7 linked regions of the Homo sapiens genome follow. The protein of the gene in region 6 interacts with the protein of the main gene of each other region in a biochemical or structural test. Each region holds a gene or a part of one and is shown on either strand. Other genes may lie near its edges. The genes, in order: DEGS2, KIRREL3, DAPP1, C4orf36, CDPF1, TRPV4 and DCTD.

The links.
Region 1: the proteins of TRPV4 (region 6) and DEGS2 interact in a test that uses a peptide from one of them, tested with the Homo sapiens proteins (one large-scale study listed by BioGRID).
Region 2: the proteins of TRPV4 (region 6) and KIRREL3 interact in a test that uses a peptide from one of them, tested with the Homo sapiens proteins (one large-scale study listed by BioGRID).
Region 3: the proteins of TRPV4 (region 6) and DAPP1 interact in a test that uses a peptide from one of them, tested with the Homo sapiens proteins (one large-scale study listed by BioGRID).
Region 4: the proteins of TRPV4 (region 6) and C4orf36 interact in a test that uses a peptide from one of them, tested with the Homo sapiens proteins (one large-scale study listed by BioGRID).
Region 5: the proteins of TRPV4 (region 6) and CDPF1 interact in a test that uses a peptide from one of them, tested with the Homo sapiens proteins (one large-scale study listed by BioGRID).
Region 7: the proteins of TRPV4 (region 6) and DCTD interact in a test that uses a peptide from one of them, tested with the Homo sapiens proteins (one large-scale study listed by BioGRID).

What each region holds. Positions count from the first base shown.
Region 1 is NC_000014.9:100,153,146-100,156,645, reverse strand, and holds part of DEGS2 (sphingolipid delta(4)-desaturase/C4-monooxygenase DES2), read left to right. Parts: intron 1-3,500. UniProt on the Homo sapiens protein: Bifunctional enzyme which acts both as a sphingolipid delta(4)-desaturase and a sphingolipid C4-monooxygenase.
Region 2 is NC_000011.10:126,997,971-127,002,242, reverse strand, and holds the start of KIRREL3 (kin of IRRE-like protein 3 isoform 1 precursor), read left to right. Parts: upstream 1-1,472; 5' UTR 1,473-1,733; coding exon 1,734-1,788; exon of another isoform or gene 1,789-1,950; coding exon of another isoform or gene 1,951-1,963; intron 1,964-4,272. UniProt on the Homo sapiens protein: Synaptic adhesion molecule required for the formation of target-specific synapses. Required for formation of target-specific synapses at hippocampal mossy fiber synapses.
Region 3 is NC_000004.12:99,833,827-99,837,326, forward strand, and holds part of DAPP1 (dual adapter for phosphotyrosine and 3-phosphotyrosine and 3-phosphoinositide), read left to right. Parts: intron 1-1,796; coding exon 1,797-1,919; intron 1,920-3,500. UniProt on the Homo sapiens protein: May act as a B-cell-associated adapter that regulates B-cell antigen receptor (BCR)-signaling downstream of PI3K.
Region 4 is NC_000004.12:86,875,705-86,879,063, reverse strand, and holds the end of C4orf36 (uncharacterized protein C4orf36), read left to right. Parts: intron 1-2,620; 3' UTR 2,621-2,859; downstream 2,860-3,359.
Region 5 is NC_000022.11:46,243,513-46,247,293, reverse strand, and holds the end of CDPF1 (cysteine-rich DPF motif domain-containing protein 1), read left to right. Parts: intron 1-72; coding exon 73-184; coding exon of another isoform or gene 185-188; intron 189-498; coding exon of another isoform or gene 499-617; exon of another isoform or gene 618-621; intron 622-2,055; coding exon 2,056-2,202; coding exon of another isoform or gene 2,203-2,480; 3' UTR 2,481-3,281; downstream 3,282-3,781.
Region 6 is NC_000012.12:109,788,399-109,791,898, reverse strand, and holds part of TRPV4 (transient receptor potential cation channel subfamily V member 4), read left to right. Parts: intron 1-3,156; coding exon of another isoform or gene 3,157-3,182; coding exon 3,183-3,499; intron 3,500-3,500. UniProt on the Homo sapiens protein: Non-selective calcium permeant cation channel involved in osmotic sensitivity and mechanosensitivity. Activation by exposure to hypotonicity within the physiological range exhibits an outward rectification.
Region 7 is NC_000004.12:182,907,387-182,910,886, reverse strand, and holds part of DCTD (deoxycytidylate deaminase), read left to right. Parts: intron 1-3,500. UniProt on the Homo sapiens protein: Catalyzes the deamination of dCMP to dUMP, providing the nucleoside monophosphate substrate for the thymidylate synthase/TYMS.

The sequences.
Region 1 (3,500 bases), on a different chromosome or scaffold from region 6:
GGGCACAGTTCAAGAGCTTGGCTGTGGAGCTGAACCCCTGGCAAGGACCCTGACACCCACTTATTAGCCACGGGTGAGTCTGTAAACAGATGAAGGAGTTGGGGCCTGGGCAAATGAAAAGGGGTTAATAAATCATACCTTCCTAATGGGGCTGCTGTGCAGATTAAACGAGGTGATATGTAAAGTGCTTATTCCAGGACTCGATGAGTATCAGCTGCGATGATAATGATTAATGTCTCAGAGACCTGGCAAGGGCTGTCGTTTCCCTAAGGACAGGGAATACTCTCTGCTTCCTCCATGCCTATGCTATTCCCAGGCCTTGGAGAAATGCTCTGTGTAACTGCCAGCATCTCTTTATAGAAGAGGCAGGAGTGAGGCTGAGAGAGGGGAAGCAACTTGCCGGGGAACACACAGGCCAGGCTGGTGCTCAGGCAGCCTCCTGCCCCACCCAGCTGGCTCCTGCAGCCTATGCCAAGCTCCTGGGTGCCCAGGGATGTTCAATAAAGATCATAATCTGACAGTCAGAATCCAGGAAGTCCTTGCAAAGAGCTGGCTCCAGGAGCTCTGTGGGTTGGGGCCAAAGTCCATCTCCAGCTCCTGCCGGGGAGGGGGACATGCTCCCTAGAACATAACTTCCTAAGAAAGTGGGGTCTCCTAGGCCAGGGCTGAGGCTCCCTGACCTGAAAGGGCAGGACCGGAGCCAGCGAGACTGGCCCCATCAGAGACCCAGCCAGGCGTGGCCGGTGGAGTAAGAGGCAAGCTCTGGGTTTGTTTTTTTTTTGAAAATGAATAGCTTTGTAATTTTGTTTGTTTTTAAATTATGAAAGCAGGGCACACATGGTAATACAAAAATTCAAATAAAGAAAAACAAAAGAGGAAATCCCGGAAGCGAAACTGCTGGCTGTTGCTGGATTATTTGCTTCAGAAAGGCCGGGGCTGAGGCTCTGTCAGTGGTAACTGGTAAAATCCAGGACCAAACTGCCAGAGCCACAAGGGGATCCTGGGGCTCCATCTCCCAGCCACAGAGCTGCCCGGCTGCAGGGTAAACCCATCTCTGTAACGTACGGGGGCCTGGCTGCTCCCAGATCTTCAGTATATATTTGTCACTGGAAATGAAAGGCAGGTTTAGTGAGCGGCTGGTGAGAAGCTGGACACTTGCCACACTTTCCAGATCCAACTAGGTCCCAGGGTGCCTCCCACACTGGACAGGGTCAGGCTTGTCTCTTGGCACAAAACCTCAGGTGGCAGGGATGGAAGCTGTGGGTAGGTGGCTTCCCAGAGCATTAGGCCAGGGCTGGGAGGAAGAAGTTTAGGAAGGAGGGGATTAGGAGGGCTTTGCTGCCTTTGTGAGGAGAAGCTTGTCCCAGGTCAGGTTACTCAGCTGTGGATGGGTGGGGAAGAGGCCACGTTGTATGGAAGCATTTCCTGCTGTGGCCACCAGGTGGCATCGTCAACCCTGAGCAGGTTTGTGGTGGAACAGGGAGCTGGGAAGCAGGTGGCGGCAGAGGTGGAATGTTGGAGGGATGATGGGCAGTGACGGGCACCTCCCATGTGGCCAGTGAGTGACTGTCATATGATGGCATTTGGCCTCCCTGGGAAGGTGATACAGCAGGTCTCCCTAGATGTTGCCAGAGCCAGGGCTTGGGGGCTCACTGGGGCCCAGTGTGGAAGAGATAAGAGGCCCCTTTGCTTTTGGGAGCCCTGCTGGGGACAAGACAAAAGTGACTTTATTGCCAGCTAGTCAGGAGGGGCAGGGGTGGAGTGGCCTGTGACTGGGAGTAGGGGTGTGGCGTGGGGGGGCCCTGTCTCTGCTACTCTTGGAGGCAAGGGTACAGCAGCCTCTCTGGCCTGGCTGCCTGTTTCTGATGCGGTCCCTCTGCTCAATGGCTCAGCAGATTTGTCAGGAGCATTTCTGGGCAAAGGCTGTAACCCATCAGAGTCGCACCAGGGTGATGCAACTGTCCTGTGGGTGCAGGGGGCTTTGGGCTGGCCTCCCTTCAGCAGGCCCTGCCTCTGGCTCTGCCCTCTGGCATTTTATGAGTGAGCCTGCTAACTGGTATAAGTGTGCAGACGTTTCACACCTTGGCATCTGCTGCCCCTTCTTCTCCATAGGCCCCTAGGGAAGACCCCACCTCCATGGGCTCCCAGCCACAGAGGCTGTCAGAGCAGATGCCTTACAGATGGAGACTGAGGAGACAGGTCCAGAGAGGGACAGGGGCTTGCCCAAGGGCACACAGGAGTCTGACTGAGCCTGATCCATGATTTTTTCTTTCTTTTTTTTTTTTTTTTTGAGACGCTTTGTTGCCAGGCTGGAGTCCAGTGGTGTGATTTTGGCTCACTGCAACCTCTGCCTCCCAGGTTCAAGCAATTCTCCTGCCTCAGCCTCCTAAGTAGCTGGAACTACAGGCGCACGCCACCTTGTCCAGCTGATTTTTGTATTTTTAGTAGAGACGGGGTTTCACCATGTTGGCCAGGCTGGTTTTGAACTCCTGACCTCAAGTGATCTGCCCGTCTCAGCCTCCCAAAGTGCTGGGATTACAGGTGTGAGCCACTGCGCCCAGATCTGATCCAGAATTTTCTCTGGGTGCTCTGTGGCAGTGTAGCCAAGCACTAGATCGGTGCTGATGGAGTCTGAGTCCACATCGGGGCCTTGCTCACCATTGTGCAGGCCTGGAGTCGGGGGTCCTGAGTTCAAGTCTTGGCTCGGTCAGCCTTGTTGCACCTTGGTGGGCCCTTCTTTGCACCTCCCTTGACCTCAGACCCTTCCTGAGTCCTGCCTGGACAGGGTGACTTCTAGCAACAGCTGTTGTTCATGGCCACCTGCCCAGATGCCTTGTGCCTCACCTGGGGCCGCTGCTGGAAACCGTCTGTGTGGGTCTGTGTATCTTGGTTCCAGGTGGCTGTGCACGTCGGGCTCTGTGCTGCCCCACGGAGCAGAGAGCCCTCAAGGCACATGTGTCTCCCAGCTACTCCTGCCATCCAGGCTGGAGGTGTGGAAGGGCAGAGTCACACCTGAGGTCAGCTGAGTGCCCACAGCAGGACAGAGTTCCCAGGCTGGGCCAGGTTTGGGTGTCTAGCCAGAGCCCATGCAGGCCTGCAATTCCTCATGGGGCTGCCAGGGAGCTGTGTCTCTCCCTGTCCTTCTCTGCCTTGGGCTTTCCCCCTCTCTTGTGGCCCAGAGAAGATGGGGCCCAAGGCCATGGAACCCATTGACTCCCACTCCCCAGCCCCACCCATTCTCCCTGTCCCCCTTTCTTTGAGGCCCTGGAAGAGGCCCTGTATTAGTGTTCTCCAGAGAGACAGAACTGATAGGATCTATGTATCTATCTCTCACATCTATTATCTATCTATCTATCTATCTATCTATCTATCTATCTATCTATCTATCTATCTGTTTTTGCCATTACTGTCGCCCAGGCTGGAGTGCAGTGGTGCAATTGCGGCTCACTGCAGCCCCGAACTCCTGGGCTCAAGCGATCTTCCCACCTCAGCCTCCCAAG
Region 2 (4,272 bases), on a different chromosome or scaffold from region 6:
CAGACACCTACTAATTTGTAGATCTTTGGTGTCAACTACCAGATGTCAGCTCCTACTAGCACACTTCTATATGCCCCTGCTTCTTTCTTTCTTGTTCACAAATACCAAGGGATAATTTTTTAAAGTTAACATCCGCATGGAAACTTGGAGTTGGAATGTGCCTTGTAGTGAGCAGAGTCCTCAAAAGATGTGCTACTACTGAAAGAGGAAAGGCTAAGAGTTTCCCAAAAGACCTCCCCAAGGTCCAGGGACTGAAGACAGTAATGACTGATTTTAGAATTGAATGCTAAATGGCACATGTCAGGGGAGCGTCTTTCATTTTCCTCTCCTCTCTCTTTACCTCTCCTTCTCACAGTGCATAACGTTGAATATTTTTCTGTGTTGTTTTGTTATGTCCTTAGAGTTTGCATCTTGTGTGTGTACTCTGCTTGCACACTAGATTATGAGCTTCTGAAGGCATGGTCTGTGCCTATTATTTTGCTTCCCTCCATGGCCTGCTTATACCAAGCATGCCTAAATGTCTATTAAGTAAATAGACCCAGATAAATTCATGTTGATATCCTGGAGGAAACCGAGTTTGATTTGAGTGTGGAGTGTGAATTTCATGACAGGTAAAAGGCTTGAAGATCCTTAGGACGCAGTTGTCTATGACCTTGGCCTCTCCTTTGCAATTGGACTCACAGCACCTCTTGGAGAAAAGACAGGCTCAGAGTGATGGAGCGCTCATTAGAGGAGAGGCTCTGAATGCAAAGACAGGCTGCTCCCCTGTCCTCGTTAGGAAATGCACAAACCAGGATAATGATAATAAATGGGTGTGTGTCACAAGCCTACTTGCCTTCCCTTTAGTTCCTGCATTTTGTCTTCCAGGAGCAGTGCAAAGCAAACTAAGATCCAAATGTTCAGGTTTTATTACCTACCCCCCCCCCCCACCACAACCACCCACCCACCCACAGGAAACTCTCAGAAATGCAAAGCATGCTTATCTCTTCTCCAACTCCGAGCCTCCCGCTGCACACATTGGCCAAGTCCTTCCGAGGGAAAGATGCGCACCCCCCCTTCCTAGTTCCCTTTCAGCCCAGTTTCCAGTTCCTTTGCAAAGGCAGGGCGTGCATGTTTTTGTGCACATGCATGTGGATAGTCATCCTTAACTTCACTGTTAAACAGGACATCGTGTGGACAAAAAGTCACAGCTCCACTCCAAGCTCAAGATGCCTTTTGGTCAATAATGGTGACAAAAGCTGAATTTTTCCCTATTTAGGGAAAAGAAAGAACACAGCCTTTTCCCCCACTGTCCGTTTTGCATAGATCTCCTTTTTCCGAGTGTTTCCTCTTTAATTATGACCTGTCTCCCCTCCCTCTCCCCTCGCCTCAGCTTCAGTGAAAGGAGTCCTTCTGTCACTCGTCACTAGCTCGCTCGCTCACTGTGGGAGGAGCCCGCCTGAGGAAGCCGTGTGCCTGGGATGCCAAGAGCCAGAGAATGGATCTTCTCCGAGTGGGGACATTGCTGACAATCCCGGCTTCCCGAGGCGGCTAAGAACAGGCAGTTTGTGTCGGCTGGCTGCAGATACCCAGAGGCACAAAGAGACCGAAGCCACCCGGAGGGACCCACGGACGGACAGATGGTAGGCGCGAACCCGAGAGGACCGGCGGAGGCTGAGCACCGAGAGCCGCCAAGGAAGAGAAACTAACCACAGCCAAGTTACCCCGCCGGCTTTCCTTCGCTGCGCTAAGGAATGAAACCCTTCCAGCTCGATCTGCTCTTCGTCTGCTTCTTCCTCTTCAGTCAAGGTAGGACCCCTGCGCTGCTGGAGTTGGAAGAAAGTCGGCTGGGTTGTCAGGGCGCGGGAGGCTGTGGGCAGGAACGTGGGCAGGCTTCGGGAACTCGGACTGATGGATGCGTCTCTCGGTGCCGGGCTGAGATGCTCTGGCATTGCCTCTTCGCCTTTGCGAATGCAACAAAATGGTACTGTTTATTTTCCTTTGGAAAGAAGGGGTATGGGAGGGGAGGGGAATGACTTTCTCCTCTCACTTGTCAATATCCAGCTCAAACTCTCCAATGCAAATGAGTTCTTTATGCTTCTGGTATGTTAATTAGGTAGTATCTCTGTGGTTATGCCGCTCTGAACTTCTGGGCACCTCCTCTCCTTCAGACCCAGGCCAGGGAAGGAGACGGCAGGGAGGGAGAGCTTGGTTTAGGTGGATATTTCAGCTTGAATAGGGTTTGACTTGCACAAGTGTATTCAAAAGCGAATGTGTGTGGTTTGCACCGTTGAAAAGGGGGTTGCAATTACAGAATGTATTGTGGGGGGTAATTTGCAGTGGTTGGGAAAAGCTTGTAAAGAGTTTCATTGAACGTCATCGAGTTCCCTAAATTAGGTTGAATTCTGAATCCTACACAGCACTGAATTCAGGGTATAAAATGAAATTTCGCCCGTGGTGCTGATGGTTTCCTTTCTGCAGCCTAGCAGGGGCAGAGAAGCAGGTGGACTCTCCGGAAAGAACTTTGCCACCTCTAGGCTCCTTGCCACTGGGAGCCCTGGGGCTGGTAGTGGTGCAGAAAGGAGAGGGAAATTCGGGAGAGGGAATGTGAGTGCCTAGTTGGCCAAAGGCATCAAAAGTCACCTGTGGAATTGAGTTTGGAGGGGCAAGTACATGGGCTCCTTCCCGCTCTTTTGGAATGCCAATGCACCTCTGCCATCTGAGGCTGCATTTGTGCCAGCCAACACAGCTCTTAGAGGTGCAAGACTCAGAAAAAATCCACAACAGAGCACGTCCATCTGTTGATTAAATGAAGGGTAAAAGTTTTCGAGAAAGCAAAGCACTGCCATGGGTGGCTGGCTTTGCAAGCAAACAGCATGTCTTCTGTTTCTCCCCTGTCGGGGAGAAGCCAAATATAAGCAAAAACCTGGCTTCCTTCTTCTGCTCTTCCACCCGTGCTTGTGGTCACTGCAGACTTTCTCCTTATCTGTGCAGTTCAAACTTTGCTTCTGGTCCTCCTGATGAAACCGAAGGGGCTCCTTCTTCATATTTGTATGTGCATACTAATGCCTGTGTATAATGATAATGTATGTACACACACACACACACACACACTCATGTATTCATATGGTTGTGTGCTTCTCACCAAGGCTCCCTACAGCAGCAGGAAGATAAATTGCCTTCCCCAGAGTTTCAGGCTGAATGAATAAGAACTCTCTCAGAACACTGGTATAGAGACAGGTTCAGTTATATTACCATTTGGTAAGATTACCCTCTTTCTTGGATGTGTATGTGCTTGCTTATGAGCACACACACACACACACACACACACACACACACACACACACTCCCATTCGTCTTTGCTTCTTACCAGTTCACTCAGGAAGTTTTGATATAGAACCCCTGAGAAGGAGGGAATCTTCCAACCAACCCCCCGTAAACACACAAACTCACATTTGCATGGGACCAGTGCATGCTTTAATCAGCCTTTTGTGTAGTTAGAAGCTTGATCCGTGATACTTATGTAGATTGGCATAAGAAGGCTATAGGTGTCTAAGTACCTCCCTGGCCGTCTGAATCATTACAGTGTACATCTTCTGTTGTGCTTATTTCTTTCTTGGTCTGGAGCTGTTTCTTGACTGCTTCATGTGAATCTTTAAATATTTACCTATGGAGGTTAAATGCTCTGTTTTATCTACCCCGAGTCCTGAGAGCGCTAGGAAGAAACCATAACATCATGCAGTTCTTAATGCCTTGTGCTCCTGGAGTGTTCTGAGCTTGGCCATCACTGTCCACCCTACCAAATGGTAGATACCTGGTCCAGAGGCTGGAAAACAGGTCTAAACAAAAATGAGGAGACCCAAGTGGACATGGCTGGTCAGATACCCTGCATCCCTGTACATGGTGTGCTTCTTGAATAGACAGTGTCCGACTATGGGAATCAAGGGGTCCAGCCATCAAGTGGGAAGGTGTTTTATGGACTTCACTGCAATGTGATATGGTTATCTTTTGCCTTGATCTGTGGAAATTTGTTTATGTGGATGTTGTTTTGAGCATTATGAATTCCCCAGAGGATTCTATTTGACCATCCTCACATATATGCTTAGCTCATGTACTGTGCCCCACCTCTACCCAGTGTCATGCATTCATCAACTTATTGGATAGAACGCATCCATGTCTAACAGGTCCTGGGAGGTCTAGCCCACATGGCTCTAAATGGCTCCACTGTGATCCCCCAGAATGAGGCCTGAGGTTACACCCCCCCACCCGGCACCCTCACACAGCCACCTGCTT
Region 3 (3,500 bases), on a different chromosome or scaffold from region 6:
TTTTTGGATCTCAATGGCTTCCTGGTAGCAATTAACGCATACTAAGCACTGCTTTAGTTGCCAGGCTTTATGGAGCACATCTCATCCATGTTAATGTGTGCAGGACTCACAACTGGCCTATGCCGTATGCCTATTAGTCATACTATTTTAAACATGAGGAACCAAAGCTCAGATTGGTTAAGTAACATGTCCAAGGCCATACAGCTAGTAAGAGGTACCACCTGGATTGGGACCCAGGCAAAGCAACCCCCGGGGCCACAATCCTAATCATCACATTTCATGCCTCTATGACATCGTTTAAAAGAATGTGAATGACCTGTTATTGGAGAAAAGAAAGATGGTGCAGAGCAATATGCCTAGAAAATAAAAATAATAAATAATGCTCGTATGTTTGTAGAATCAGGAGTGGAGGTACACATCCAATGCCTCTAAGTGTGTAGACTATCTCTTAAGAGGAAGCACAGGAAAATGGTTACCAAGGTGTCCTCTAGGAAAGGAACAGGGAGCCTGAGGGCCCAGGGTGAAGAAAACATGTTTTGCTATGTCTCCTTTTGGACAATTTGAATTTTTTTTTTTTTACCATAGATATATATTACCTTTTCTAAAACACAAATATCATTTTGAATCTCCTTGAGCATTCCCTAGCTCTTCAGATACTTGTCAGGCTGAAACAGTACTTGGTGGCATTTACTTCATACTATAATTCCTTCCATCCAGCTTCGTTTCACTCATGACAATAGCCTTTAGTATTATAGCACAGAGGTTTCGCCGTGAAAAGGTACCACACTTGAAAAAGAGTGTGAGAGACCAAAAAAAGAAGGAAATTGGTCAAAGCCTATTCTTATGGTATTTTGACTTGGACTTTAAAAACCAATTCTGATTACAAAGCAACACTGTATTAGTTTGCTAGGGCTGCTATAACAAAGAACCACAGCCTGGGCAGCTGACTATAAGAAATCGATTGCCTCACAGTTCTGAAGGCTCAAAGTCGGAAATCAAGGTGTCAACAGGATTGGTTCCTTCCGAGGGCCGTGAGGGAGAATCTGTTCCAGGCCTCTTCCTGTGGCTTGGAAGTGACTGTCATGTTCATGCGCTGTTCTCCCTGTAGGCAAATCTATCTCCTGATTTTCCCTTTTTACAAGAGGACACCAGTCATATTGAATTAGGGCCCACCCTAATGACCTCATTTTTTTTTTTTTTGAGATGGAATTGCACTCTGTTACCCAGGCTGGAGTGCAATGGCATGATCTTGGCTCACTGCAACCTCCGTCCCCCAGGTTCAAGTGATTCTCCTGCCTCAGCCTCCCGAGTAGCTGGGATTATAGGTGCCTGCCACCATGCCAGGCTAATTTTTGTGTTTTTAATGGAGACGGGGTGTCACCATGTTGGCCGGGCCGGTCTCGAACCCCTGACCTCAAGTGATCCGCCTGCCTTGGCCTCCCAAAGTGCTGGGATTACAGGTGTGAGTCACCACACCCAGCCATGACCTCATTTTAACTTGGTAAAGACCCTGTCTCCAAACAAGGTCACATTTTGAGGTACTGAGAGGTTAGCACTTCAACATAAGAACTTTCAGGACACAATTCAACCCATGTCACGCTACTATTAGTCAACTCTGTGCTCTCCTTTCAGCCCCACCCAGGGATTTCCTTGTCCTAATGTTGGGGCTGAGAGCTGGGTCTCTGGGCTACTTATCTTGAAGAATGTTGCTAGGTAATCTTTGCAAGGAAAAGCCAGTGCAGGGGGAGTCATGCCATGGTTTGGCCTGAGTGAAAGCGCTGTTCCCTCCTTTCTAGGTGGTATCACGGCAACCTCACACGCCATGCTGCTGAAGCTCTTCTCCTCTCAAATGGATGTGACGGCAGCTACCTTCTGAGGGACAGCAATGAGACCACCGGGCTGTACTCTCTCTCTGTGAGGTAAGGTGCTTCAGGGCTCTACGACTTCAGCATGGGCTCCTCTGTCACTTACTGACTTTATCATCACTCAAATTGCCAGACAGCAAAACTTCCCAATTCCTGTTGGACCACCAGGTTAAAGGATTCCAAACTCTAAATGATGAGGGTGTAAAACAACATTCCTGCTCCATTCATTAGCAGGAAAAAAATTGTTAGAGCTGGAGGAGACATGAGGAATTATTTGATGGAAACCTTTCATGGGACTGTTGAAGAATCTGAAACCCAAAGCGGTGGAATGTCTGGTACCTCAAAAATCAACAATAGAAACAGTGCCAGAATCCAAATTCCTGACACCTGGCTCAGTGTCCTTTTCACTATTCTTTGATTTCTCTGTAAATGCAGAATGATTTATGACTGTACGGCTTTCATAGTCACAACCTCAAGGAGGCAATATACATGTTTAAAATTTTTCCTATAGTGGGCTAGCTTTTCATATTGAGTCTCTATTTCTCCCAAATGGTAAGAAAGTTAATCCAGTCCCCACCAGGTTCATACAGCCAAATGCAGTCATTGTCCAGATCTTTCAGGTCCTCCCCACCTCACACCCCCTTCTTTCTGTCTGGTGCCCCAGATCAGAGAGGCTGACCAAGCTTCTGGTAGTCAGGGGAGGCGGCTGGTTCTCAGTCGCATCTGACACTCTGGCTTCCACTGACATGTAGCAAGTATTCTTGGGTTTTTAGGCGCTTCTCCATGGATTAGGCAGGGGATGTAAGGACTCCATGAAATTTCCCTCAGCCACCCACCCATTAAGCTCAAACTGTTATTGTGTTACTGTTCTGATGGCACCTCCATATACCCTGGAGAGTCACTCTTCCCTTCATAGTGCAGTTCCTCAAGCTAATCTGGCCTCAGAGGCTCTCTCACTTCTTTCCCAGTCTACACGGTCACTACTGGTCACTAACTCAGTAGCAGCATTCACATTGTCTCTTTGGGCTCTGGGCCTTGCTTCTATATTCATTTTCTATGCTACATAACAAATTATCAAAAACTTAGGGACTTAAAGCAACGCAACTGGATTATCTCACAGTTTCTGGCTGGATTCTCTGTCCAGGATCCTACCAGGCTGAAATAAAGGTGTTGGAGAAGCTTGTGGCTCTGATCTGGTATTTAGTGTCTTCTTCCTTCATTTTCTCCTTTCCTCTTCATCCTTTTTCATCCATTCCCTTGCTGCCGTAGAACTGAGGTCCTCCTTTTCCTTTTAGCTGTCAGCCAGGGGCCATTCTCAACTCCTAGACGCCACCCACAGTTCTTTGCCACATGGCACCCATGGCTGTTTACCACATGGGTGTTTGCTTTCTTGCATGCCAGCCAGAACACATCTCCCTGACTTTTTCTTCTGTGAGCAGCCAGAGAAAACTCTGTTTTACAGGGCTCATGTGATTAGTTCAGGCCCACTCAGATAATGTCCATATCTTAACATCAACTGACTTGGGACTTTATGACCTGCTAAATCCCTTCCCAGTAGCATGTAGACTAGTTTTTGATTGAATAATTGGGATAAAGTGTGTGTACTCCAGGGGCTGGGATTTGGGATCATCTTAG
Region 4 (3,359 bases), on a different chromosome or scaffold from region 6:
CAAATAAAAAACAGCTACCTCTCCCAGTCTTTAGACATTGGCTTCATGCAGGGGAGGGTCTTCACCAGTCAGCCTGGCTAGAGTGTATGGCGACCTCCCAAACCTTTCTGGGAATGCATCTTCTCTGGGCTTGTGTGTATAACTTCCCAGTTAAAAAAGGTTTACTTGCTTCTTCACTGGAGCTCATAATCTTTTGCTTTTCCTGGTGTCTGTCTGTGGTACTACACTCTCTCCAGTGCTGTAACAAACTGTGGAGCTTGCCTTTGTTCCCAGTGGCCCCCCAACTTGGCATCCAAACTGCTGTTCTGGTCACTGTTCCAAGTCAGGTAAGATAGAACCCAGTCCTTGAGCAGCATCCCCGAAAAACCAGAATGTTGGATAAACAGTGCATTCATCTCTTTCACTCCTGAGGAAAAATGGGGTTAGAATTTTTCTCCTGGTTGTGCCACCTTGTGCACGGGAGAAGGAATGGCTAGGGCAGGTAAAATGCCATGAATTTTCCTACCCATTTCAATGCACTTGCTGAGGTGCTGCAACCTCTTAACTTGTTTCTGGAGTTCTTACTAAAGCAGTTTGGTTTGTATATTGTTAAGTCAGTGTCTTCCTTGGTGAGTGAGGATCTGAGGCTTCCTATTCTGCCACCTTACTGATATCACTCTGCAAATATAAAATTTTTGATACATTGCTATCACTCTGGGATTTGGGGGTTATGGATAACTTTGAGGTTACAAACCTATGCATTCCAATATCGAGTCAGTAGCATAAATGAGCAAAATGGTCCAGTGAAGCCATACAGGGAGTGCAGAGACTGGAGAAGGGGAGAGCATGCGCCTCCTCCAAAGGGGCAGCAGCCACTCAGCTCCAGTCTGTCGGTGCCATGCTAGAGTGGCATTGAGGGGATAATCTTCCAGTTTGATTTTCCCAAGGGGAAGATCTTCCAATTTTTTTAGAGAATCTGATAATAAAGATGAAAAAAAAAAACACATGCAACTCGTTATTGTGGAAAATTTCAAACATGCAAGAGTAGTAAGAATAAGAAAATGAATCTCTATGTCTCTATCACCTTGCTCCAGCACTTATCAACTCACGGCCAATTTTATCTCACTTATACTCACTCACTTTCCACACCCCAGTTCCCACCATTGGGTTATTTTGAAGTAAATTCTAGATAGCATATCAGTACATCTGTAATTATAGAAATGCAGATTTTATAAATGTAGATTTCCAATTTTATAAAGGTGCGGAACAATCAAAGCATCCTGGGGGTTATAATCCATGTAGGTCCATAGTTTAACCTCAGAGTAAGGAGTTGTGTCTGGTGGTTGCTGCTTTGACATATTTAGAAGCCATTATCTGAATTATCCCGATATTTTCTTCTATCTGTGACATATGGCACAAATGAAGAGCACTTTGTGTCAGGAGTTTTGATGTGAGTGACTCATTTGATTTAGTGATCCTCATCCCTGAAAAAAGTTGTCAGGAACCCAGGCTCTGTATATAGCCTTGGCTGTGTGACTTGAGAAGGTGGAACATCAACATTCCTAGTCCAAATTTGCCTCATAAAATTCCAGTGTGCTCTGTGTAAGACTCTGATCTGCCAACCAGAAACATTCCCAAAGTTTCTTGGCTGAAAGTCTGGGAGTTGGAGCTTTCACCAGATTACCCACTCTACTCTTTCTTCCCACTTCCTTTACATACCTGTCCTCTCCTATTTGTTCTTTCTGACATTTTGACTAAATTTCCTCCATCTCAGTAATTATCATAAATATTAGAGCTGGATTGTTAACTGGTTAAAATGTGGAAAAAGACCATTTTACGATTACACAACCAAAGATAGTTGTTAGCAGAAATTTAGTGTGTTTTCATTTCTTTGGAAATCAAAACCAATTCAATTTTCTTTAAAAATTAACAATCTCCAGCTGTATCAACATATGTTTTGGACTGTGAAAAGATTCATGCTGTATTTTTATTTTTGTAGTCCACATCCCACTGAGCGGCCTGAACTCTTTCTTTTTAGGGTTACTGTCACTAATCCATCTAGTCTCAGGGATAATACTTCCAATAATTTATTTGAAAACTGTAAATATTTTAAAATCTAAAGTCCGCAAATCTACTGCGCAATATATCTGGCATTGTTGCTGTTAGTTTTGATTTCTTAAAAATCAGATTTAGATAAGATAGTAATAGAGAGAAAACTCTAGGTTTTAGTAGATCTGGGTTCTAGAGTCTTCCCTGTCCCAATTAGTTGTATATCCATGAGAAAATCTCTTTTTTTTTATTTTAAAATTGCAACCAATTTTATTTTAATTTTACTTGGATGCAACAGCCAGAGAACTTTCCTAAATTCTGAATAGTAAAGATCACCCATAGCTTCACCATACAATTTCAGAAAGATACACTGTGTATGTAAATACCATGACCATCCAGAAATTTTCTTCTGGTTCATTGAAGAACTGTCTGTTCTTCTGTGTATGTAAAGATTTTGCAGGTTTTGATGGGCTAAAGGTCCTTGTAAACTGTACAATAGCTTCACACAATCCGACATTTCTAATCTTTTCATTTTTTCTACCTCATTTGGATGATAAAATAAAATCTTATTTTCCCCCTCTCCTTTGCGCAGCCTGAAGCGCGGATTGTAGATGAAGAAACTCAGCAGCGCCGGCGGGAACTGCTTCTCCTGGGCCGCCCAGGACCCGCTCCCGGCCCCGGCCGTCGCTGCGCTGCAGCCATCCTGGCCCGGCCCCCACCTCAGGAAGCCTCCCACGGCCCGCCCAGAGACCGAGAAAATCTCTTAATTTCAGTGGAACTCAGTTTGTTTCTCTTTTTAAACATTGCCAGTTATAAATGTATTTTATTTTATATTATTTTTATTTATTTATTTATTTGAGACCGAGTCTTACTCTGTTGCCTGGAGTGCAGGGGCACAATGTCAGCTCACTGCAAGCTCCGCCTCTTGGGTTCAAGTGATTCTCATGCCTCAGCCTCCTGAGTAGCTGGGACTAGAGGCGCAAGCCACCACGCCTGGCTAATTTTTGTATTTTTAGTACAGACGGGGTTTTGCCATGTTGGCCAGGCTGGTTTTGAACTCCTGACTTCAGGTGATCCACCCGCCTTGGCTTCCCAAAGTGCTGGGATTACAGGCATGAGCCACTCTGCCCGGCTTCTGTAAATGTATTTCAAATAAAGATTTGTTTTTTAAAACAGTAGTTTCCAAGCTGGTCATGGTGGCTTATGCCTGTAATCCCAGCACTTTTGGAGGCTGAGGTGGGAGGATCTCTTGAGGCCAAGAGTTCAAGACCAGTCTGAACAAAAGAGTGAAACCCCATCTCTACAAAAGCAAAAAAAAAAAAAAAAAAAAA
Region 5 (3,781 bases), on a different chromosome or scaffold from region 6:
GCCATAGGTCATGGCTGATTTTCCGACGGCAGAGATTTGGGCTGTTCTGACGCTGCATTCACTCTCCTGCAGCCTCCTGGAGGAAAGCTATGTCATGAAGGATCCCTTCACCTCCGACAAGGACAGATTCCTGGTCCTCGGCTCGTGCTGCAGTTTGTGCAGCAGGCTGGTGTGTGTGGGCCCGGTGGGTAAGCAGCGTGGGCTGGGGCCACCTGTCCTTGCTGTGGTTATCCTGGAGCTCTCCCTGGGTAGGGAGGGCTGGGAGAGAGGGAGCAGCGGGTTCACCCCATTATAGATGGGGCCCCTCAGCTGATGAAGGGGAGAGGTGAGAGGGCAAGCTAGGGTCAGTTAGAGGGTCTCAGCCTGGTGTAGGAATGGAAATAGGTAATTGGTGGCTCTGCACCCACCCCAGTGGCCCCTCAGGGTTCCTCCCCTTCCCACCAACAGTGCAGACAGTCCTTGTGCGCCCTCTCACCAGGATGGTGACTTACTTTCTAGATGTTCTTGGAGGGATCTCCAGGAGAAGGGACTGTCCTTTCATGAGCACTTGTTGTGTGCCAGGTCCTGTGCTTGGGACCTGTTTTACTGCTGAGGCTTCATTCAGTCCTGCCCCTTAGTCAGGTAAAGCAGTATTATATTCCACCCATTTTATAGATGAGGGAACTGAGCTTCAGAGAGGCTGGGTGGGCCAGGTTCACCTGGGTAGCTGTAAACCCAAGGACGGATGGAAGTGGAGCAGCATGGCTTTCACAGCGTGCCCAGTGTACTCAGAGTGACCCCAGAGTCTGAGAAGTCCCTGAGCATCTGCCACAGGTTGACACACACAAAGGGGAGCTGTATCAATAGCCAGGGGGACGAGATGGGCCAGGGTGGGAGGAGCCTCCGCAGTGTGGCATGGGAGTATCTGAGGCTCATGGAGGAGCTGGTGGTCCAGGAGAAGCTGGGAAAGGAAGACTGCAAAGGTGGGTGGGCCAGGTGGGGAGGTGGAGGTCTTGAATGCAACACCTTGGCCTTGGGCTGCTCTTCGTGAGCAGCGGGGTGGCGGGGGTGGGGGGCGCACGCAGGTACCACAAGTCTGCAGCTTTCTTTGTTTAAACAGTAGGTTGTTAGTGAGCGGATCTCCATGGCGAAGGGTCTTTTCTAAGAACTGCAGGAGGGCAGCCTTATGTTTGCGAGCACACTAAGCTTTAAGAACAGACAGACACCAAAAATAAGAGTGGCCTAAGTAAAGCAAATAGTTATTTACTTACTTTCTCCTATGTAAGAGTCCAGAACTGGTGGCCTTGGCTGGAAGGGCACCCCTGTTGTCTTCAGCAGAGTCTCTATTTGGGTCCCTTGTGGCTGTGGAGCTCCCACCATCATATTTGCATCCCAGGCAGCGGGAAGGGACGTGAGAGCACAGTCCATGCCTTCAAAGGGCATGACCAGGAGGTGGCACACACAGTTGCTGACGCCCCTAACCAGCCTGAGTCACATGGCGATGCCCAGTTACAGAGGGGGCTGGGGAATGTCATCCTTAGCCACGTGCTGTGCACCGTGATGAATCTCGGGAGTTCTAGTGTGTAAGAGAGAGGAGAGCGGACATGGCTGCACGGTTCTGGCCTCCTGCCCAGACTAGCTGGCTCGTCCATGGCGTCTTTGGTCTGTGGGGCTGTCCTTCCTGTCCCCTGCCGCTCCCAGCACCAGGTGGCCACTGTTCGTGCTGCGATAGCTGGGACGGGAGGACTCTGGGATTTTCGGGGCATGGCCTGTGCTCCAGCTTTCCATTGTTGTCACTGCCCCGTGATGGAGCAGAGCAGGCCCCAGAGTCTTTCTGTCCCATCCCAGCTGTTCCCACCCAGGGTAGCCCAGGCCTGCATTGCTTTTCTCCTGGACACCCTGCCAGGCCCTCAGGCCTGGCTCTCCCTCTTGCTGGTCTAGCTCTGGCCACCTGCCCACACTGTGCATGCTGGGGCCCCAGCCCAGCCCCCCAAGTGTGGGAAGGGCTGGCCCCTGGGAGGAGCTGCACCATGTTCCCAGGATACTCAAGCCTCCATCCTTGTCCACTTCTTTAAGGAATGCAGTTTATTCTACTCCAAGAGATTCTGCCTCCCTTGTGTCCGGGAGAACATCAATGCTTTTCCTCAGGAAATTCGGCAAGACTTGGAGAAAAGGAAAGCTCCATCAAAGAGGACCCCCAGCCAGCCCGGTTCTCGGACGTGAGTGCAACTGGGGCTAGGTCATCGGGCGGCACCCTGCACAGAGCTCCTGGGCCAGCCTGCGCCAGGGATGCTGCTGAGCTGGGAGCCGCCATGCCTGGCCTTGTTTCTGGACCACTGGGAGCAGCACTGCAGCCCAGGGGAGCTGGAGTCCAGCTTGGAGCAGCCACAGGCCCAGGGAGCTGTAGCAAGAGGGTAGTCCAAAGGCAGATGCCAGACAAGACACAGCCAGGAACCCGGCCAGGTCCCCCCACATGCCCCTCAGGGCCCAGGCCTGAGTGAGTGCTGCTCAGATGTGACTGAGAGGGATGACCTCCTTCAGCAGGGCAGCTCCTAAGAGGCTGCGTGCAGGTGCGTGTGGGGGGAGATGCCACACTGTGTCGGGGCCATGGTGCACTGTAGGTGGCTGCAATGGTCTCTCTGTAAGGAAAATCACTGACAGCAGCTCCTTCTGGACCCAGTCTGGAAGGTCTAGAGGGGGATAGAATTTTTATTTCATATCCTTATGTGGTGCTTGGAAAATGTTTTTAACCTTGACCATGTATTATGTTTATAATTAAAAACCCAAAGAACCAGCTCATGTTTGGAAAAGGAATCTTCCACTGAAACATTTGGATACCCGACGTTCTCCCTGGACACTTGGCCCGGCAATAGTTGGGGTCTCCTGGGAAGCTGAGTGCTGGCTTCTAGCCTCTCCAGTTCCCTCAGACTCTGTCTTCAGCTCGGGCCCCTCCGTTCTGTCTCCCTCGACTCCAAGTCAGGAATACCGTGGGCTTCCTGCCCTCACCCCACACCTCAAGACCATCCCACTGCTTGCCTGCTTGCCCCCTGCCATCTCGCACTCAGCCCTGGGTGCCTGTGAAGCCTGGCCCCACTGCCTGCCGGGGGTTCCTGCAGCACCCCCCTACTCCAGGCTCCCCATCTCCCTGAAGCTTCCAGGGTAGCAGCTGGTGGGACACTGATCTGTGAGCTCTGGAATGTCTGCTTAGAATTCTGAGAGGCAGGAACTGCTCTGTCTTTGTAACTACTCAAGGCCAACTGTCACATGAAGGAATGAATAAAGAGTTTTTACTGACTTGTGCACTGATGGACTTTAAGATGCTCACTGCTTTAAAAGTTCCCGTTGTATGTGACTTCAGACGAAAGGATGTCGTATTCCGGAGCCAGATTGTCCTTGATCCATTCTGTATGTTGAAGGACACAAAAGGGACTGTGCAGGTGGAGACAGCCTCCATGAGGGGCGCAGGGACTGTTCTGGCGGAGGGCGGACCCCACAGCTGGGGACTTGGTTCTTTTAGACCAAACAGTCCATCTCGCAGCATCACTCAAAACTCACCAAAAAATTTTAAAAAATAGTTTATTTTTTAAAACCATTAAGGCAAAACTGTACCCTGAAATTAACTCTGTACATTCATCAGTCTTACAGTAGGACATCCCAAACACAGAAGTTCCCATATATTCAGGATATAAATCAATACATGTGGTCAGTTCAGTCTCCTAATAGGAAAACGAAGACCCAAGATTTTTTTTTAAAATTAAGGTTATTTTATAGCCATTTTCTAATTGCCTGGAACCAATCAGTT
Region 6 (3,500 bases):
TTGCCTCCCAACAAGCCTGTAAGCTAAGTGCCTTTATTATCCCCTATTATAGAAAAGGAAACTGAGGCTTAGGAGGGTTAAATAACTAGCACAAGTTCAAAAGCCAGTGAATGGTGGCCGGGCGCAGTGGCTCACATCTGTAATCCCAGCACTTCAGGAGGCTGAGGCGGGTAGATCACTTGAGGTCAGGAGTTTGAGACCAGCCTGGCCAACATGGCAAAACCCCGTCTCTACCAAAAAATACAAAAATTAGACAGGCATGGTGGCGCGCAACTATAGACCCAGCTACTCGGGAGGCTGAGGCACAAGAATCGCTTGAACCCAGGGGGTGGAGGTTGCAGTAAGCCAAGATGGCACCACTGCACTCCAGCCTGGGCAACACAGCGAGACTCTGTCTCAAAAAAAAAAAAAAAAAAAAAGCTGGTGAATGGCAAAACTGGAGTATTAGCTATTGCTACAAAGGAAGCCACCTAAAGTGGGGCTTAAAATAGCACCCACTTATTATTATTATTTTTTTTGTGGCAAGGTCTCACTCTGTCACCAAGGCTGGAGGGCAGTGGTGCTCTTGGCTCACTGCAATCTCTGCCTCCTGGGTTCAAGCGATTCTCTTGCCTCAGCCTCTCGAATAGCTGGGATTACAGGCGTGTGCCACCACGCATGGCTAAGTTTTATATTTTTGGTAGAGATGGGGTTTCACTATGTTGGCCAGGCTGGTCTCGAACTCCTGACCCCAAGTGATCCACCCACCTTGGCCTCCCAAAGTGCTGGGATTACAGGCGTGAGCCACTGTACCAGGCCAACTTACTATTGCTTATGAGTCAATGGGTCAGCTGGGTGGCTGTGCTGCCCTGGGCCAGGTTTGGCTGATCCCTACAGGCTCTTGTGCCTGTGGTCAGCTGGCAGGCTGGCTGCTGGCTGACTGGTCTAGCTAGTATGGACTTGGTTAGAGGGGGTTTGCTATCTATCTTCCACATGGTCACTCATTTCTGGACAGCTAGCTTGGGCTTGTCCACATGGTGGCCTTAGGGTTCCAAGAACATGAGCAGAAGTGTTCAAGGACACCTCCTGGCATGGCATCACTGCTGCCTTACTCTGTTGGCCAAAGCAAGTCACAAGGCCAGCCTCGATTCAAGGGATGGGGAAATAGACGCCACTTCTTTTTTTCCATTTTTTTTTTTTGGTGGAGGCAGGGTCTTGCTATGTTGCCCAGGCTGGTCTTGAACTCCTGGGCTCAAGCAGTCCTCCTGCCTCAGCCTCCCAAAGTGCAGGATTATAGGCGCGAGCCACTGCACCTGGCCTAGACTCCACTTCTTAGTGGGAGAAGCTGTAAAGCCACATTGAAGGAGGATGGATACATGGAAGGATAAAATTTAATAATTAAACTAGCAGCCCAGGTATTTTCTTAAAGCCCAACATCAGCTCCCTTGATATACCTTCTTCGTGATGTCATGATGCCACTAAGAAGCATTCTGGGACCTCAGTGGCATGGGTCATGGGAGAAGGACCAGGGACCAGGGCTGGAGAAACTGACCAAGTCCTTGGGCTGATCCCCGAGGTGTGGGTAATCTGACATCAATGCCCAGCATCCAAAGGGGAATGGCCAACTCAGGTTAGACCTGGACACATACACATCTGAGCAGGTTCATCTGGGGACGAGCCTGGCACAGGAATCTGACAAGGGTGATATTTTAACCCACGATAGTGGCCAAGTCTCTAGGTAGATTATTGGTGGGAAGTGGAATTGTAGTTTTCACTGGGGAGATAGGGACAGGGTACAGCTTTCCCTTCCCAGGGATCACACTGGACAAACTAGACAGTGTCAAGGGTTCAACAACAGTTTGGGATTCAGGTCAGGGATCTAGCCCTACTGCAGTCCTAGTTATTGAAACTAAGGAGAAACAAGGGTTAGAGTAGCAGCTTAGCAGTCAGCTTGGTTGCAGGTCTTCTCCTTATAGGATGCACTAGATCTCAATTCTGAGGCTGACATGACATAAACAGGACACACATGCTTCTGTTCCCACACTTTGGTGTCCATAGCAGACATCACTAATGGATCACAGAACAGTTTTTCCGGTGAGTCCAGACAAGGTCTCAGAATCCTTCTCAACACAGTGTTTCACCAGGTACTATACAACTGAAGAACATTAGCATATGAGTTGAAATCTGCATACTCTAATCCCTGGTTGCAGGCAGTATGACATTCTGTGCCCCACTGACTGATGGGACTGAGTCTTCTTCATGCTCCCCTCCCTGGCTGGTTTAGGGACAGGTTGTTGCTGCCAAACTGTGTTGAGAAGGAATCTGAAGCTCCACCTGGGCTTAGTAGGAAAGGAGAACCATGATGAGTTTGAGATGTCTAGAGCAGGAGAGGCCCCTTAGAGAACACGGCTTTGGGGACAGTCAGGACTGATGCCTGGTTTCAGCCCCCACTTTTCCTCTCTGGGTTGGGGTGGAGTGGGAAACTGTCAGAGAGAGAGTCTACCCCTGCGAATAGGGGCATTCCAGAGCCCCCAAGACCTCTAAGAATGGTAGGCCGCATTAGGATTTCCCAACACTATTGACATTTGAGACCAGATCATTCTTCGTGGCGGGGACCATCCTGTGCATTGTAGGGTGTCAGGCAGCACCCCTGGCCTCCACCCACCTGATGCCAGTAGCACCCCCACCCCCAGTTGTAACAACCAAATATGTCTCTAGACATTGTCAAATGTCCCCTGGTGGGAAAAACTGAGACCCTCCCTGGACTAGATCCTGAAAACCTTTTCCCTCCCGGTAGCAGGGAACCACCAGGTTGTGTAAGGAGGGGTGAACTGTCCCAGGTTGGAAACAGAGCAGGTCAAAACTCCTACGCTTATCAGTAGTGGGATTGAGCCTGTGAGTAGCCACTGCACTCCAGCCTGGGCAACATAGCAAGACCCCATCTCAGAAAGAAAGAGAGAGAGAGAGAGATAACCTCTTCCTTATCAGCAAGAGTTTATGGAAAGGCTTCAAAGGTTTTGGGATCAGGAGGACCTGGGTCTGGTGTGGCTTGGCTGATGTGTAGGGTGACATGGGTCAGCGTGTGGGCCAGCGTGCTCCGCTCACTAGGCCTCAGCTTTCTCCTCCAGCAAATGAGAATGACACCCTCCACCTCTCTGTGGGTGTGCTCACACTCAGTGAGTGCCACCCCTATCCTCCCACAGCCCTGGTCTCCCTCCTGAACCCGTGTGCCAACATGAAGGTGTGCAATGAGGACCAGACCAACTGCACAGTGCCCACTTACCCCTCGTGCCGTGACAGCGAGACCTTCAGCACCTTCCTCCTGGACCTGTTTAAGCTGACCATCGGCATGGGCGACCTGGAGATGCTGAGCAGCACCAAGTACCCCGTGGTCTTCATCATCCTGCTGGTGACCTACATCATCCTCACCTTTGTGCTGCTCCTCAACATGCTCATTGCCCTCATGGGCGAGACAGTGGGCCAGGTCTCCAAGGAGAGCAAGCACATCTGGAAGCTGCAGG
Region 7 (3,500 bases), on a different chromosome or scaffold from region 6:
TTGTAACATAATAGGAAGATGGAGCTTTTCCTGGGCTGTGTCTCTAGAGAGTTATTTTTAAAGGGTGTTTTTGTTCTTCCAGTCTTGGGATCAAAACTTCATAAAACTATTTTATTATAATGTAGTATTAATGTGGAAAATGAAAATTCCCTCTGCTAAAGAAGCTTTTTATTCCATCCTTTTCCTGAAAAATCCAAAAGATAATATGATGTCAGTAACATTAAGTGGCAGGAAGAAGGCAATGTTATTATACTAAGAATCTTTTCAGATGAATGACAATTAAAAAAGAGGAAGCAGCAGATTTATCTAATTTACAAGATTAAAAAACTTGGGAAGATTTTTATTTTCATGAGGGGGTGGGTTGCTAAACCTGTGATGAAGTATTCAGTTGACATTTTTCATTCCTTTTTCTTTGTGGAATTCATTATAGTGAAGCACATTTAATCAAAATACCAATGTTATCAAATGAGGTAAAATACTCTTGGTGATTCAGATATCACTCTTTCCTTGGGTTTTCGTAACCGATTTTGATGATATAGTTTACAAATTAGAGAGTTGGAGAATTAACTTGTTCCCGTTGTTAAACTTAAGGGAATTTTTAGTAATGCTTGCCACATGTATCCAGCTGCCCAGCACTTGTGGCCTTGCTGATTTCTGCTGGCAAAGGGCTCTGGGTTTTGGTGAGTGCCTCTGTGCTTGGCCTCCTATCCCACCCAATGGACCAGGGAGCCAGGGTTGCTTGGCCTGCTGCATCTCACTGCACCAGGGAGGGAACCGTAGCATCTCAGTGTCCCCAAGAGTCGGGGGAGGCCTCACTCTGAGTGCGTTGGGTAGAAGTGGGGCTCTTACCCGAGTCAGTTCCTATGTCTACAGGGATACTCTAAAAAGGATGTAATGCTGGGAAGGAAAATGCTGAAAAACCTGGAATTAATTAAGGCGAAAGAGTTCAGCAGAGCATCTTAAACACCTTTGCCAGTGTGGGGCAGTGCCTCTTTAAATTCTCTATTTAAATTTCATCTTTATTTTTCAGACTTAGCATATTGTTAAGCATGCATAGATGTCACTTTTGTGATTACTTAGCCATTTACTTTACCCCCTTGAACACTGACATTTTCCTGACTGCCATGCACGTGATATATTTCTTTGGCATCTGAAAGGTTAGTGTTGAGAAACTAATTTATCAAGAAGTTAGGAGGCTGATCCTTCTTAAGATATGACTTCCTCACAACTTGTAAGAGCTTCTTAGTAATTAAGATCAAATTTGTTCTTTCCGTCCTGAAATTGAATGTCCTCTGGTTTCGTTAGTCAGTCCATGAATTTGATAACTTGCTGTTTCTTTTCCTGCAGAATTTAATTTCACTTAAAGCTTCCTGCCGCTCCTCCCCTGCCTGGCCTTCTACTAGTTGTGGCCCGACAGCAGGTCTAATTAGGGACTTTTGTACAAAACTACTGTTATAATCAATGGAAAACCTTTGAACAACTGCATAGAAAAGAAATTAAGTAGATTATTTTTACGAATCAAGGGGCAAACTCAGCTGTGATCGTGTGGGGTTTCAGATAAACAGAGGGACACACCAGTGTATATATGAGTCTTCTCCCACCCACTAAAATCAACCAGCTCCATGTAAGCATGTTTTACTTTAAGATATAATTGTTTATAAACAGTTTTCAGAAAGGAATAAATAATGATATTTTAATATAATTTATTTTGATATTTATGTATTTTTATAGTTACAGAGTTAATTATTTTTAAAGTGCTAGAGTTTACTATTTCATTATGAATATCTATGAAAGACATATAGTAACAAAATAACTCCTTGTTTTGAAGAGCACACATGTTAGGAAAAGCTGAAATGTTTGGGGATTGGACCTACCCATGAAAATACACATATCTGTCTCCTTTCTATAAAAAGTGACTTTTGAGTCAGTTCACCTCGTAGAAGTTTGAAATAAAACTTAATCTAAAGTAGTGGTTCCAGGGTTCCCAGAAGTGGGCTGAAGTTTATCTTTGTACTGTAATCTCTCAAGATAAAAGGTTTGTTGAAAAATTAGTAGCCTTGATAAAATGTCAGGGGCACATGCAAACTAATTTAGAAAACAGCTATGTTAAGTATTTGAGCACATTAATGATCTGAATGCAAATGGATATTCCTTCTTTATTTCTTCTTCTTCTTCTTCTTCTTTTTTTTTTTTTTTTTTTTTTTGAGACAGAGTCTTGCTCTGTCACCCAGGCTGGAGTGCAGTGGCACAATCTTGGCTCACTGCAGCCTCCACCTCCAGGTTTCAAGCGATTCTCCTGCTTCAGCCTCGGAGTAGCTGTGTGATTACAGGCACGTGCCACCACGCCTGGTTAATTTTTGTATTTTTAGTAGAGATGGGGTTTCACCATGTTGGCCAGGCTGGTCTCAAACTCCTGACCTCAGGTGATCCACCCGCCTCAGCCTCCCAAAGTCCTGGGATTACAGGCTTGAGTCACTGTGCCCGGCCACTTCTTTATTTCTTTAACTTTGCTAAGTCTTTGCTTAGAAACACAGGGATTGCTGTACAGTGTGGTTACCTGAGAATGATTACTCTCATAGTCTTGATTCTGGTGATCTGTTCTATGTCAGTTGTGCTGATTTTGACTGATCTTCTCTGAAATTGGCTGAAATGACTAAAGCTTTATTGTATTTTGAGTTTTTTTTAATCCGGAATCTCCCTTCAGGAGTTTTGTTAATACCAGCTATATTAAAGTAGAATATGAATATATTGTTTGCTCCCAGAAATACACAATAAAACCTAGTTCTTAGAGATTTTTGCAAATGTTTGTATTGCTTTTTACTTTTACTTCCTGAAGACTTTTTTTTTTTTAATCTGGATAGGGATATGCATGTCTGTAATACACACATTAGCTAAGTAAAGCCCCATAGTGCTTAAAACAACAATTGCCATATTCACACGAAAGAATCCTGGAGCCGCCGTAAGGAGCCAAGGGTTCCAGGTTTGGTATGTTCATGCCCAGTGACTGTGGGGCTGTTAGAGGCATCACCTGACATTTATTTCTCAATATCTCTATGAAGTAAATTATCACTGAAGATTCTTCCAGTTCTCTTATTCCAAGGAAAAATATAAGTATTATAGCTTTGATGGCATTAGATTAGTATCTTTTTCTCAGCTTACGGAGTTCTGAAAGCGTTCTCGGTCAAATCAGAGCTGTAAAAAGCTGTTGGAGGCAATGCCACAGGGAGAATGTGCATGTGTACATATGGATAAATTAATAGAAACAGGCGCCTTTCCCTCCCTCCTCTAACGATTAAAGACTGGCGCAGTTCTAAGATGAATATAGACCATATGGAGATAGGATGCATGAATAGGAGGGGACAGTCAGACTGTAGGTTACTCCACAGACATGCAGATTAAAAGACATTGGATGAGAAAAGGTTGGATAACAGCAATAAAGAAAAAGATCCTAGCTGAGTATGGAGTGCACGCCTGTAATCCCAGCACGTTGGGAAGCCGAG